2 linked regions of the Homo sapiens genome follow. The protein of the gene in region 2 purifies or fractionates together with the protein of the main gene of each other region. This does not show direct contact. Each region holds a gene or a part of one and is shown on either strand. Other genes may lie near its edges.

Region 1 (3,751 bases), on a different chromosome or scaffold from region 2:
ATGGAAAAATTCTAAACAGAATTTTAGGAAATTGAATTAAAAAAACGATAATATGTCATAAATAACTAGGGCCTAGTTCAGGACTGCAAGGTCGATTTAACATTTGAAATTCAATGGATGTAATGACCATGCTGACAAACTAAAAACAAAACTATATGATTGTCTCAACAGACACAGAAAAAGCATTTAGCAAAATTCAACCTCTATTCTTGAAAACTCTCAGCAAACTAGGAATAGAAGAGAACCTTTAGTCTAGTAAATTGTATGTACAAAAAACCTAGAATGAATATTATATCTAATGGTGAAAAATTGAATGCTTTCTGTAAGATAAAGAACAAGTTATTGATGTCTGTTCTTTTTTTTTTTTTTTTTTTTTTTTTTTTTTTTTTTTTTTTGAGACGGAGTTTCGCTCTTGTTGCCCAGGCTGGAGTGCAATGGCTCAATCTTGGCTCACTGCAACCTCCAGCTTCTGGGTTCAAGTGATTCTCCTGCCTCAGCATCCCGAGTAGCGGGGATTACAGGCATGGGCCATCATGCCCAGCTGATTTTGTATTTTTAGTAGAGACGGGGTTTCTCCATGTTGGTCAGGCTGGTCTTGAACTCCCGACCTCAGGTGATCCGCCCACCTTAGCCTCTCAAAGTGCTGGGATTACAGGCGTGAACCACTGTGCCTGGCCCATTCTTACCACTGCTAATTCAACATTGTACAGGTAGTTTTAGCCATTGCAATAAGTCAGGAAAAATCAAAGTCATTGTGATTGAAAAGACAGAAGTAAAACTATCTTTGTGTACAGGCATCGTGAATATCTATACAGAAAACCCAAATCTCCAAAACCCACTAGAACAAATAAGTGTTTGGCAAGTTCACAGAATACAAGATCAATATACAAAATAAATTGTATTTCTATCTATTATAAATGAATATCAGAAATTGAAGTTAAAAAGCAATATTTACTATAATACGAAGTAGGGAAAATCTGGAAAGGATATGCAAGACATATATACTTAAAACTACAAAAACATTGTTGAGAGAAATTAAAGAAGACCTAATGAAACAGAAGGATGTACTGGTTCATGATTTGAAGGATGCAATATTAAGATATCAGTTATGCACAAATTGATATGTAGATCTAAAATAATCCTGACCAAAATCACAGGAGTCTTTTTTGTAGAGATTGACAAAGTAATATTAAATTTCATATGGAAATGCAAAGAACTAGAATAGCCAAAACAACTTTGAAAAAAAAGATAGAGTACTAATACTACCTAATGTCAAAAGTTCTAACACTTTTATTCAGCTACAATAATCAAGACAGTATAGTTTTGGTGTCAAGTTCCACGAACACATCAATAGAATAAAGAGTCCAAGAGTAGACCCACATGTATGTGATGGAGAAGGGACAGTCTTCTCAACAAGTAATGTTGAAATAATGGGATATTCATAAGCACAAAAATAAACAATTCATAACTCATTCATATATAAAATTAACTCAAGATGAATCATAGACACAAACATAAAACCTCACACTATAACACTTACAGAAAAAAACTAGGAGAAAACTTTTGTGGTCTTGGGCTAGGCAAAGATCTTAAAATATGGCACCAAAAGCGTGATCCATAGAATTACAAATGGATAAATTGCACTTCATCAAAATTAAAAACTCTGCTTTTGAAAAGAAACTGTTTAGGAAAGAGAAAACGCAAGCCACAGCCTAGAAGAAAATATTTGCAAATCATATATTCTATAAACACCAGTGCCCAGAATATAAAAAGAAATCTCAAAACTCAGAAAACAAATAACCTAATTTTTTAAACAGATTATTAACAGCTAGAAATATGGAAGCAAATAAGCACAGAAAAAGATGTTCAACATTGTAGTCATTAGGGGAACACAATTAAAAGTATGATGGAATACCAGCACATGCATATTACAATAGCTAAAATTAAACATTGACCATATCAGGCATCAGTGAGAGTATAGAGGACCTGGAGTTCTCATACACTGATGGTGGGAATGCTAAATTGTATGACTACTTTGACAAATAGTTTGGCAGTTTCTTTAAAAATTGCACATATATGCAATTTAGTCATTTCATCCTTAGATGTCTTTCCAAGATAAATAAAAGTATATGTCCATTTGTTAAAAAGTATGCATGAATATGTGTAGCAGCTTCATTTTAACATTCAAAAACTAGAAACAAGTCAAATATCCATCAATAAGTGAATAAACCATAATATATCCATGCAATATAATGCTACTCAGTACAAGAAATATTAATGTATGCCCCAACATGATAAATCTTAAAATATGCTGAGTGAAATAAGCCAGATAAAAAAGAATATATTAGCTAAGATTTCATCTTTGTAAAAGTTTAGAAAATGCAGACTAATCTGCAAGAACAGAAATTATATTAGTGGTTTCCTTGGAAAGGTTTGTTGCGATGGGGACCATGGAGCATAGGAGCTTGAGGAAGCTAGCTTTTGTAGGTGTTAGATATTTTTGTTATTGTGCTTGTGGCAGTGGTGTCAGTGGTGCGTACATATGCCCAAACTGATCAAACTATACACTTTATTTCTATTTTTATTTTTTTAAGATGGAGTTTCACTCTTTTGTCTAGGCTGGAGTGAAGTGGCACGATCTCGGCTCACTGCAGCCTCTGCCTTCAGGTTCAAGCAATTCTCCTGCCTTAGCTTCCTGAGTAGCTGGGTTTATAGGTGCCCACCACCATGCCTGGCTGATTTTTGTATTTTTAATAGAGACAGGGTTTTGCCATGTTGGCCAGGCTTGTCTTGAACTCCTGACCTTGGGTGATCCACCCGCCTGGGCCTCCCCAAGTGCTGGGATTACAGGTGTGAGCCACCGGCCCCGGCTCCGGCCCCATACACTTTAAATGTGTGCCACTTTTTGTATTTTAATCATATCTCAATATAGTTTGTTTGTTTCAAGATCCCTAGTTGATTCAAACATACACACAAATTTGAGAATCACTACTCTAATCCTTCAAGTCCCTGATTTCACCCTGCAGAGGCAACCTCTTCTAGGCAGTTTCTTGTTCTGGAAACTGGAACATTCTAGAAATCCTGTGCACATGCAGGCATATATGAACATACATATCCTGTGTTCTAACTTCACAAATGGTAGCATACTTTACATAACATTCTGTATTTTACTTTTTTCACTTACTATATCTTGAAAATTATTCCATATCTATACATATGGAATGACCTCATTCTTTTTGACACCTATGTGTTAATGCAGTGGATCTGGATCCTAATTATTTTGACTATAAGAGGTGGTACTTTATTCTTACTCTAAAATAATTTGAGAATAGAGATGTAACTTAAATAGTTGCAGAGTTAATTTTCCTTTTAGGCATATCCTTAAGTCCTCATAGTCATAGTCATACTATATATTATAAAATGCCTTCATCTATGTGGGTATATAAGCTTTCTACAACACCAAATTTACTATGAATTAGGTAGTAATTTTTCACAGGTAAAGTTTGCATATTTATGTGAAATGTTGACAAGTGTTAACATTTTAAAAAGTTATTATGACATTTTATTTGCTTTGCTTATTCCCTCAATATGAAATGTGGTGTTTGGTTGTCCTTCCTCATTTAACACATATTTTATAAGTCTTCTTTTGTCCTTTGCTGGTCAATTTGGCATTGGTCTTTGGGCCACAGCTGTTCCAGAAATGTGTGCCATGCAGACTAATCTGTTATCAGTATGCACTTTTGGCGAACAA
Region 2 (3,751 bases):
CTTCCCGAGGTGCTGTTACCCGGCCGCCACTCTGCTGGGGGAGAGCCGGTGGGGAAATGGGGGGCAGGGGTCTCGGGCCGCCCCTCCCGCCGCGAGGAGCAGGCGTGCGGCCCGCGGGTTTTCTTTCGAGAAAGTCGGTGCCCTTAGAAAATTATTTTCTCAACCTGGTTCAAGCAAACCTTCTCCTCTCCCACCCCCTTGGACCCCAGGGCCGCCCACGGAGCGGAGGCGAAGGCCCGCGTTGACCGCGCTCCCCGCACTGGCGAGCCTGCCCAGCCACGGGAACCGCGGGCCGCCACCCGGGCCTCCAACTCCCGCGAAGAACTTTTCTTTCGGCGGGGAACCAGCAGAAGTGGGTCAAAAACCCGAATGCCAAGTGGAGGGCGGCGACGGCCTCGGGCCGGGGGCGCGCGGGAGGCACCGGCGCGGGGACTGGGGGTTCCACGCCGCCCCCACACGGCCCACGCCGCCCGCCCCCCCGGCCGCCTCCTCGGAAAGCAGATGGCGGAGCGGCCCCCACCCGCCCTCCCGCGGCAGCCGCCCCCCGCGACACTCGGCCCCCGAAGGTGCGGGGCCCATCCCGCGAGTATGTGTGAGGGGGGTGCGCCAGGCAGGATTCCGGGGTCCCAGGCCTGGGGAGGCCCTGCGAACCCCCGGGGGCGGCAGCGAGACCGGCGGGCTCCGGCGCCGCCTCCCCTCCCCCACCCGCCCGCGGTCGCCGGACCCGCACCCCCGACCCCAACGAGCCTCGGCTGGGGGGAGGGGACCGCGCGGGGGGGAGGCCGGGAGCCCCGAGGGCCGATCCCCGGAAGGAGGGGGAGTGAGCCGGGGCGGAGCCAGCAAAGCCCGCGGGCGGGGGGCGGGGGCCCGAAGAGAGAGGCCAGCGCGCCGGGGGGCGGTGGGTGGGGGCAGGACTCGGGTCCCCAGAGCGGGTGGGGCCCCCGGAGGACGCGGCCCCCGAGAGCCGTAGGGGGCGGGGGCCGACTGGGCCCCGCGCGGAGTCAGGGGGCGGGGCGCGGGCCACCGGGCCCGGGGGATCGGGGGAGCAGCCGGGGGCCTCGGGAGCCGACCCCGGTCCGAGGGGGGCCTAAAACTCCTCGAGAGCAACCGGAGCCAGGGGCGGGCGGCGGCTCGGACCGCGTCCCCGGGGGCGGGGAAAGAGTAAGCAGGCCGGCGGGGAGGGGCTGGGGGCGCCGACAGGTCCCAGGTCGACGCGAGGCCGGAGAGGGGCGGCCCGGGGGAGAGAAATAGGCGCAACGGCCCTGGGGAAAGGGCGCGGGGAGGACGCGGAGGTCCGCGGAGGGGACGCGGAGGCGAGGCCCGGCGGAGAGGACCGAGCGCGGGCCCGAGCAGGGGGCGGGGGTTGGGCTCCCGGGGGGGCCGACGAGGGGAAAGCGGGGGAAGGGGAGGGCGGCGCTCCGGGCGACCGGGGGTCTGGCTGCCTGAGGACGGCAGGATCGCGGAGGGGGTGGTCGGGGGCGATTCGGACGCACAGCTTCACTCACCTCCGGGTGGAAGGCGGCGGCGCAAGAGTCAGAGTCCATGTTCCGGGCGGGGGGCGGCGGCGGCTGCGAGAGTGCAGGAGCTGGGATGCTGGAGCGGGGCCGCCCGGGGCTGGGGGCTCGGGCGGCTGCGCAGGGCGAGGGCGGACCCGGGAGGGGTCGCCCGGGCTGGAGGTGATGGGGGGCTCAGCGCGTCGCTTCTCAAGCTCTGTGACCCCGGACTGGCGGTTCCACCGCCGACCGGAGTGGACGATGCAGCTCCCGCGGCGGTAGAGGCGGGAGAGTGGCTGCAGGGGGCGGCGGCGGCGGCGGTGAGCGGGAACCCGACCGGCTCCCCGACCTGACGCCCAGTTCGGCTCGTGTCTCGGGAGGGAGGGCGGGAGAGCCGGGAGGCCTGTCGGGAAATGTAGTCTGGGTGGCGACTGGAAGCCAGCGGCGAGGGGGCGTGGCGCGGGAGGCGGGCGCGGTGCCTTGTGGGAGTGGTAGTCCAAGGCCCCGCCAATACTGCGCACAAAGGAAACCTTGGGGACTCCAACCCCCATGAGGCTCCGCGGCGGCGGCCCCGGTGTGTGGAGGCGGGTCTTCTGGACTCGAGGCCGCGCGAGCGGGGGAGGTGCGGGGGCCCGCGCCGGCTCGGCCGCGGGGGGAGGGGCAGTGTGAGCGGTAGCGCCTTGGTCTCGGCGGGCGCGGGGGCGGGAGTCGCTGCGGCGGTGGGGGCGGGGCTGACGGCCCGGGTTGCGAAGGGCGGCGGCGGCTGGCACCTACCCTTCCTCGTCTCCTACTTGGGGTTCGCGCCCCTTTGTGGGGCGGGGGTCCCCGAGGCCTGGCCGGGAGTAGGGGCGGCAGGGGCGGGGACGCTGACGTCGCGGCCGCCCCGGGCATCGCTCCCCGCTCCCCGCTCCCCGCTGAGGGCGGAGTCGCCGCCCGGCCCCCGCTCCAGGCCGGGCTCAGCGAAGTTGTTTTCGCGGCTGCGGGCTTCGTGCGGCTCCCTGCTCCGGGCCCGCGGGGCCGGGACTGGACCGGGCTCTTCTCTAGGCATCTGCGGGATTCACTCGAGGTGGCCGGGTTCGTGCATTAAAAACACCGGGCCAGCGTTGTCAGTGTTCTAAAGAGGTGTGCGTTCAGTTTGCTTTCTGTTGCCGCCTAAGCCTAACCTTGGGACCGGCCGTTTTCCCACTCTCCTGAATATCCTCCGGCCCGCAGGGCGAGGCGGAGACGCGGTGTTTGGCGCTGGCATCGACTGGTACTTGTTTAGTGGTGTTTAACTGGGATGGGCAGTGTGTAAACGCTGGACCGCAGAGTATCCGACAGCTGTACGTGTGGAAGGCTGGCCGGACACGGTGGGGACTGCCCCTATGCGGTGACCAAAAGGCGGTCTGACGGGAACATTTTTAATATTCGAAAGTGGGGGAAAAAGGTAAGTACAAAACGCAGATGATTCAGTAACCTGTTTGGTAGCTTCGAAGAAGTTAAAGGGGAGTGACACAAAATTGAAAATTCAAATTAGAAAACGAACTCTTGGAGATACTAGTAAGATATTTGACAGGCGCCGAATGCTCCATCAAGCTGGCTGTTGCTATTTCAAGGGTTATGATCATTCTGATGAAGATATTTAATAGTTAGGAGATGGTGTTAATCTTAGAAATACTTCTCTGAGCGGCCGGGCGCGGTGGCTCGCGCCTGTATTCCCAGCACTTTGGGAGGCCGAGGCGGGTGGATCACGAGGTCAGGAGTTCGAAACCAGCCTGACCAACATGGTGAAACCCCGTCTTTACTAAAAATACAAAAATTAGATGGGCGTGGTGGCGGACACCTGTAATCCCAGCTACTCGGGAGGCTGAGGCGGGAGAATTGCTTGAACCCGGGAGGCGGAGCTTGCAGTGAGCCGAGATCGTGCCACTGCACTCCAGCCTGGGCGACAGAGCGAGACTCTGTCTCAAAAAAAAAAAAAAAAATACTTCTCTGAGCCTCAGTTTCCTAAGCTGTTAAATTTTAGCGTAGTGCCTGGCTAAATAAATGGTAGCTTACTGTTGTTGTTGTTGTTGTTGTTTTATTATTTCTGCAATATTGTAGCCCATTGGAGGGCTTCCCAAAGGTGATAAATTGAGGTACTTTACAAGATAAAACATGAAATTACTGATTAAAACAGAGACATTGGACTTGGCCCATCGAGACTTGATTAACAACTTCTTATACAATTGCACAGATGATTTAGCCAGATTTGGAATGTTACCTGGTTACTGTGACCA

What was found. Proteins that work in one complex are often made in the same cells at the same time.
Region 1: the proteins of PHF13 (region 2) and TBX20 purify together in Homo sapiens (affinity purification with mass spectrometry; 3 studies listed by BioGRID and IntAct, with this or other methods). This does not show direct contact.

Annotation. Positions count from the first base shown.
Region 1 is NC_000007.14:35,205,387-35,209,137, reverse strand, and holds part of TBX20 (T-box transcription factor TBX20), read left to right. Parts: intron 1-3,751. UniProt on the Homo sapiens protein: Acts as a transcriptional activator and repressor required for cardiac development and may have key roles in the maintenance of functional and structural phenotypes in adult heart.
Region 2 is NC_000001.11:6,611,860-6,615,610, reverse strand, and holds the start of PHF13 (PHD finger protein 13), read right to left. Parts: upstream 1,881-3,751; 5' UTR 1,545-1,880; coding exon 1,506-1,544; intron 282-1,505; exon of another isoform or gene 1-281. UniProt on the Homo sapiens protein: Modulates chromatin structure and DNA damage response by regulating key determinants of chromatin compaction and DNA damage response.